2 linked regions of the Homo sapiens genome follow. The protein of the gene in region 1 purifies or fractionates together with the protein of each later gene. This does not show direct contact. Each region holds a gene or a part of one and is shown in the gene's direction. Other genes may lie near its edges.

What was found.
Region 2: the proteins of CRYM (region 1) and NSF purify together in Homo sapiens (affinity purification with mass spectrometry; one large-scale study listed by BioGRID and IntAct). This does not show direct contact.

The regions. Positions count from the first base shown.
Region 1 is NC_000016.10:21,257,822-21,261,413, reverse strand, and holds the end of CRYM (ketimine reductase mu-crystallin), read left to right. Parts: intron 1-75; coding exon 76-160; intron 161-2,568; coding exon 2,569-2,633; 3' UTR 2,634-2,893; downstream 2,894-3,592. UniProt on the Homo sapiens protein: Catalyzes the NAD(P)H-dependent reduction of imine double bonds of a number of cyclic ketimine substrates, including sulfur-containing cyclic ketimines.
Region 2 is NC_000017.11:46,597,009-46,600,830, forward strand, and holds part of NSF (vesicle-fusing ATPase), read left to right. Parts: intron 1-3,822.

The DNA.
Region 1 (3,592 bases):
CCTGGGCTGGCTTCAAAAGCCAACCCTGCACAGACTTTAGCTTCATGCCTGGGTCAGCGTATGTTTGTTTCCTAGGCCGAGATCTTTGCTGAGCTGGGAGAAGTGATTAAGGGAGTGAAACCAGCCCACTGTGAGAAGACCACCGTGTTCAAGTCTTTGGGTAAGATCCATTGCTCCCTGGGCACAAATCCAACTAGCGCACAAGGCAGGTTCACCCATTGGTGGAAAGAGCAATGAGTCACCAGACTCTGCAGCTGAATCATTGTGCTCCATCATTCAGGTCAATTATTTACATGGTTTAGCCTAGTGCTAAGCCCATGAACTCTGGAACTGAGCAGTCCTGGGTCAGAGTCCCTTCCCCGCCACTCAAAGGCAGGTGTCCTTAGGCAAGTGATCTGACCTCTGTAGGCCTCAGTTTCCTCACCACCTGTTACCATTGAGGATTAGGTGGGATTTGCATATAAAATGAATCAGTTCGGTGCAGATCTTGATGAAATTCAGAAGGTACCCTTCAGAGGTGGAGGGGGCAGGGGACAAAGATGTTAAAAGACAGGAACCTTAAGGGAAATGGCAGAGACCCAACCTGAAAGAGTCAGATGGAAAGTATAGCCTAAGCCCTGTTCATTCCCTCCTTCCCTACTCTCCCACTTGCTGCTTTGAGGAGGGCTTCCATGGGGAGCCCCCTACCACCTGAGTTGTATGGGGTACCTTATAGAAGCCCAACAAAGGGTGGGCTCCCAGTGGCCAGTCTGTCCCTTGCCCCAGGTCCTCTTCCACCCTATGAGATTGAAGGAAACAGAAGTACATGGGAACAGGCTGAGCTCGGTGGCTCACGCCTGTAATCCCAACACTTTGGGAGGCCAAGGTGGGCAGATCACTTGAGCTAAGGAGTTTGAGACCAGCCTGGCCAACATGGTGAAACTCCATCTCTACTAAAAATACAAAAATTAGCCAGGCGTGGTGGTGCACATCTGCAATCCCAGCTACTTGGGAGGTTGAGGCAGGAGAATCACTTGAACCCGGAAGGTGGAGGTTGTAGTGAGCTGACATCGTGCACTCCAGCCTGGGCAACAGAGCAAGACTCCATCTCAAAAAATAAATAAATAAAGTACATGGGAACAGAGCTGATACACCTAAAACACTGAAATACTCCCAAACTGGTTGGTAAACAGTTGCTATCCTGAGCCCCTCGAGAGTGCCCTCTGTCCCCCTCTCATGACCTTCCATACTTCGTGATCAAGCAGCAAAAGAGTAAATGCCTGGCAGAGCATCAGGAGCGCTCTGGCCACCCAGAGCCCATGCCATTGGTTAAGTATCCATGCCTTGCAGGTTGGTAAATGTCTTTAAAATCTCTCATGCACTGGAAGACAAAGGCAATACAATTTTATCTGGAGCCTGGTTCAAAGACATCACATGGATCCAGTTTTGTCTGAAAACTTCAAAGGTCATGGCAGATCAGAGGTCAGCCAGCCCTTACTTAAGGAGCCAAAATGCTGCAGAAACTTGTTCTGTCCTTTTTGGCAATTTTTGCTTTCTTACTTTTGGGGATCAGTTTATTGGTGCATTGTTTCATCTAACAGATGCGTATCAAGCACCTAATTATCTGTGCTGGGTGCAGAGGTTAAGGTATCTACCAAAATTACAAGACAAAGGGGAGATATCAAAGGATGCAGCATTCAAACTGGACCAAGCGTCAGAAAACTACAGTCCTGGGGCCAGACCTGCTCTGCTGCCTGCTTTTGTGTGGCCTATGAGCTAGAAATGGTTTTTAGATTTTCAAATGAATGGGGGGAGAAAATATTTCATGATGTCTGAAAATGATACAAAATTCAAGCTTCAGTCCCATCAATAATTTCACTGGAACACAGCCCACAGCCAGGCTCTTTTGTTTACCTGTTGGCTGTGTTTTCTACTCTAAAGGCAGAGTTGAATAATTGTAATAGAGACCCTGTGGCCCACAAAGCCTAAAGGATTTACTGTCTGACCCTTTTTGAAAAGTTTGTTCAGGCCAGGCGTGGTGGCTCATGCCTGTAAGCCCAGCACTTTGGGAGGCCGAGGTGGGCGGATCGCCTGAGGTCAGGAGTTTGAAACTAGCCTGGTCAACATGGTGAAACCCTGTCTCTACTAAAAATACAAAAAAAAAAAAAATTAGCCAGGCATGGTGGCATGCACCTGTAATCCCAGCTACTCAGGAGGCTGAGGCAGGAGAATCACTTGATCCTGGGAGGCAGAGTTTGCAGTGAGCCAAAATCGCGCCACTGCACTTCAGCCTGGGCAACAGAGCGAGACTCCATCTCGAAAAAAAAAAAAATTAAAAAAAAAAATTTGCTCAGCCCTGAGCTAGATTTAGAAAGATGCACAATTTGTTGGTGGGTGTTTCTTACTATCATATTCTCTGCCCCTTTGCAGACAATTGAAGCCTGAGCTCATCTCTGGGTATCAGTCCCTGTTATTCCAATAGGCATTGGCAACATGGACATGTATCAGGAAACTTCCAGCCATGGGGCCTGGGTTGTTTCAAGAAAAGTTGTTTTGACCAAAGGCGAACCAAATTTCTGTCTATTCTAGGAATGGCAGTGGAAGACACAGTTGCAGCCAAACTCATCTATGATTCCTGGTCATCTGGTAAATAAAACAAAGGAACTTGATGTTGAGATGGATGCTTGAGGAATATTGCTGCTGGTTCTCATAATTTCTAGAGTAAATGAGGGAGTCCAGTCCCCAGTGAACTCTCCTTTTGTGCTTATCATGTTTTACCTTAAATGCTGAGATCCTCATTTATGTTTGTAGTTGGAAAGCAAAGCTAGGTAGCCATTTCTTCTGTTCTACCAAGTTATAATAGCATTCATTTCCCTTTATATTTCCCTGAAATAAAGCACATTCCAATTGTGCAGTGTTTGCTTCGGTAACTTCTATTACTATCACAAGGAAACTGAGAGGGATCAGATGCTCCCATTTACTCCCTGGGGGAGCTACACTGGCTATAATGAAACTTCTTTTTTATGTATTTATTTAGTAGTTACAACTCACATACTCTAAGATCCACTAGTTTAAACTATACAATTCAGTAGTGTTTTTTTTTTTTTTTTTTTGGATGGAGTTTCACTCTTGTTGCCCAGGCTGGAGTGCGATGGCATGATCTCGGCTCACTGCAACCTCTGCCTCCTGGGTTCAAGTGATTCTCCTGCCTTAGCCTCACGAGTAGCTGAGATTACAGGTGCCACGCCACCACACTCAGCTAATTTTTGTATTTTTAGTAGAGACGGGGTTTCACCATGTTGGCCAGACTGGTCTTGAACTCCTGACCTCAGGTGATCTGCCCGCCTCGGCCTCCCAAAGTGCTGGGATTACAGGCGTGAGCCACGGCTCCCGGCCAAGCCTGGTCATTTCTTACAAGTGAAATTCTACTATATGTAGTCTTTTGTGCCTGACTCCTTAATGCTTAGAGGAAAAATGGAATTTCTGTATAGATCAGGGCTCCTTTGGTCATAAGTGGTAGAGACTACAACTCAAACTACCTTAAGCTGAATGAATGGAGAATGAGATTTATTGGCTCTCGTAATTAGGAACACACAGGTAACTGGTTTCAGCT
Region 2 (3,822 bases), on another chromosome or scaffold:
TCTATTTTTATACCAATACCATGCTGTTTTGGTTACTATAGCTTTATAATATATTTTGAAGTCAGATAATGTGATGTCTGCAGCTTTGTTCTTTTTGCCCAGGTTTGGTTTGGTTGTTTGGGCTTTTTTCTTTTTCCTTTTTTGGTCCCATATGAATCACATTGGTATTTTGATAGGGATTTCATTGAATCTGTAGATTGCTTTGGCAATATGGTCATTTTAGTGATATTAATTCTTTCCACAAGCATAGGATGTTTTTTGATTTATTTTCTTTCATTGGTGTTTTGTAGTTTTCTTTGTAGAGATCTTTCACCTCCTTAGTTAAATGTATTCCTAGGTTTTTGTTTGTTTTCGGTAGCTATTGTAAATGGGATTGCCTTCTTAATTTCTTTCTTGGCTAGATCCTTATTGATGTATAGAAATGCTACTGATTTAAAGGTTTTCTAAACCTACAGATATATAATCAGCAAAGAGACAATTTGACTTTCTCTTGTCCAGTTTGGATGCCTTTCATTTCTTTCTCTTGTCTGATTGTTCTGGCTAGGATTTCCAGTACTGTGGTGAATAGGAGTGGTGAAAATGGGCATCCCTGCCTCATTCCAGCTTTTAGAAGAAAGATCTCACCTCTCCTCATTCAGTATGATGTTAGCTCTGGGTTTGTTGTGTATAGACTTTATTATTTTGAGATATATTCCTTCTATGCCTAATTTGTTGAGAGTTTTTTTAATCATGAAGGGATGTTGAATTTTATCAAATGTTTTTGTTGTTGTTGCAATACTCTTTTTTTTTTTTTTTTTTTTTTTTTTTTGAGACAGAGTCTTGTTCTGTTGCCCAGGCTGTAGTGCAGTGGCGCGATCTTGGCTCACTGCAACCTCCACTCACTGGGTTCAAGCAATTCTCCTGCCTCAGCATCCCTAGTAGCTGGGATTACAGGCCTGTGCTACCACACCCAGCTAATTTTTCTATTTTTAGTAGAGACAGGGTTTTGCTATGTTGGCCAGGCTGGTCTCGAACTCCTGACCTCAAGTGATTTGCCTGCCTTGGCCTACCAAAGTGCTGGGATTACAGGCGTGAGGCACTGAGCCCGGCTGTTGCGATACTCTTAATGGGTTTTATATTTCCTTTTTGTGGGGGACAGTTTATTTTGCATTCTTACTACTTTTGATATTCTGACATCATCTTATAAGTGGGATTTATATTCACTATGTAATTGAAGTTTTTTCCAATGAAGCACCGTATATAGTTTATCTGGGAAATTGGCTGAAGAATAAAATGTGTGATGTTATTCAGTGTACAGTTTCTAGGTCATCAGAAGATACCACTACCTTCCCACTACTGGAAAAGAAAAAAGAAAAGTTTTCCACAGTGCCTGAACTGTTTTGTATGCTTATCTTTTAAAATTGCCAGAAATCTCACTTACTGGAGATTCAGCAGTCCCTTTCTGAAAATACACATACTTTAGTGCAAATAAAGCCAGTGGATCTCTTTCTTCATAAGTCCTTAAACCTAGTCGAGGTCATCTGTTTGGCAGAGATAGGAGTAAGATAATGTGAAATAGGAACCAACGAGAGAGAACTTGCTTAGGAGTTGAAAGGGGTATGGAAAGATGTTAGAGGTAAAATTTGTCGAATCTAGTGTTTTGACTAGGGCAGGCCAGAATATTCAGTATCAGTATCAATATCAGAAGCTTTTGTAGCCTTTGTTTAGAAACCTAGTCATTTATAACATTTTGTGGGTGAATGACATCATTACCAAACAAACTTTCAGATGAAACTTTGGAACTCAAGCTGTAAATTGTGGATAGCTCATGTGCAGTACTACAAATCAAAACAAATACTATAAAGTGTTTGGTAGTCCATTTCCTGAATGAAAGTTTGTCCAAAGTATATCAACTTTCTGCAGTCTTACATGCAGTAGTTATTAGTTTTGTGTATCGCTTTAGTGGATATTTTTAAAAGTATCTTCAAATGCAATGAATTTTAGGAAACAAAACAATTCTTTAAAGCATCATTAGATAGCTTCTTCTTTCTGAAACCCAGAGGAATTTATGTATAGGATGACTCTTTTTTTCAAGTAGTTAAGTTAAGGTGCAAAAGTATAAGGTAAAGTATATTATCTTACCATTGAAAATTTTGGCAGTGGCAGAAGAGCGAACCCTTACAAATACCTTCATTGGGCAATACACTAAGCACTTGCTGTAATGCTTTTTAAAACATCTATACTCTGGCTGTGGTATTTTAAGTGAAAATCTCTCAGTGAGATACTCTTTCGTATTTTAGTACTGATATCCTTAATATTGCTCTGAGAGCTACCTTATACTGACTTCAGTTTCCTAGTGATTTAAACTACTAATTTCCAACTTATTTTTTTTTATAGTGAAAACTAAATATTCCTTTTGTAGATGTAACCATTTCTGGAAGCCCTAAGTATTTTTGAATGAGTATAATTCATGCACACTTTAAGAGATTTCAAGCATGACAAGCACAGTGAATAACATATATCCATGTGATTACCACTGAGGTTTAAGAAATGTTAACATATGATATCTGCTTCAGATATTTATCTTTTTAAAAATAGAACATTACAGCTGGGCATGGTGGCTCACACTTGTAATCCCAGCACTTTGGGAGGCTGAGGCTGGTGGATCACCTGAGGTCGGGAGTTCGAGACCAGCCTGGCTGACATGGAGAAACCCCGTCTCTACTAAAAATACAAAATTAGCCGGGCATGGTGGCACATGCCTGTAATCCCAGCTACTCGAGAGGCTGAGGCAGGAGAATCGCTTGAACCTGGGAGGCAGAGGTTGCGGTGAGCGAGATCACAACTCCAGCCTGGGCCACAAGAGTGAAACTCAGTCTCAAAAATAATAATAATAAATAAAAAATAGAACATTACAGATCCAATTGACTCTTCTTTGTATTGCTCCTTTTTTTTTTTTTTTTTAGTTTTATTTAAAAATTTTTTTTAGAGGCTGAGTCTCACTTGGTGGCCTGGGCTGGAGTGCAGTGGCGCAGTCATAGCTCACTGCAGCTTCACACTCCTGAGCTCGAGCAATCTTCCTGCTTCAGCTTCCTGAGTAGCTTGGACTAGCAGAGGTGTGCCACCACATCTGGCTAATTAAAAAAAAGTTTTTAGAGATAGGATCTCTCTGTGTTGCTCAGGTTAGTCTCAACACCTGGCCTCAAGTGATCCTCCCACCTCAGCCTCCTGAGTAGCTGTGGTTGTAGGTGGCAGCCACCACACCTGGCAGTATCCCTTCTTGAGACCACTGACCTTTCCCAGAAGTAATCACTGTCCTGAAGTTGGTATAGATTCTTTCTGTCTACATCTATGCATGTTTATGCTCAAAAACAATATATTGCTTTGTGTGTCTTTAAAATGTATATAATGGTTTTATGCTATATCTTTCTTTCTGCAACCTGCATTTTTCACTTAAAATAATTTTGAAATTTAGTCCTGTGGATATATAGTGAGCCAATTAATTCTGCTTAGCTACTCTGTAGTCTGTTTTGTGAATATACCACAATCATCTACTTTCTTATTAGAGGACAATTTAGGCAGTTCCAATTTTATTTTTCCCGGAATGTACATTATTTTAGTCGAGTGCCATTGCCACATTAGCGATATTTTGGTTAGTGAGGGACTGCAGATAGGAAGGTGATCCCAAAAGATTATAATGCCATATATTTACTCTACCTTTCTATATTTACATATGTTTAGTTACACAATTACCCATTATGTTACAGTTGCTTACAGCATTTGGTGCTGTAACATGCTGTACAGGTTTGTAGCCTAGGAGCAATAGGCTATACCATATAGGTT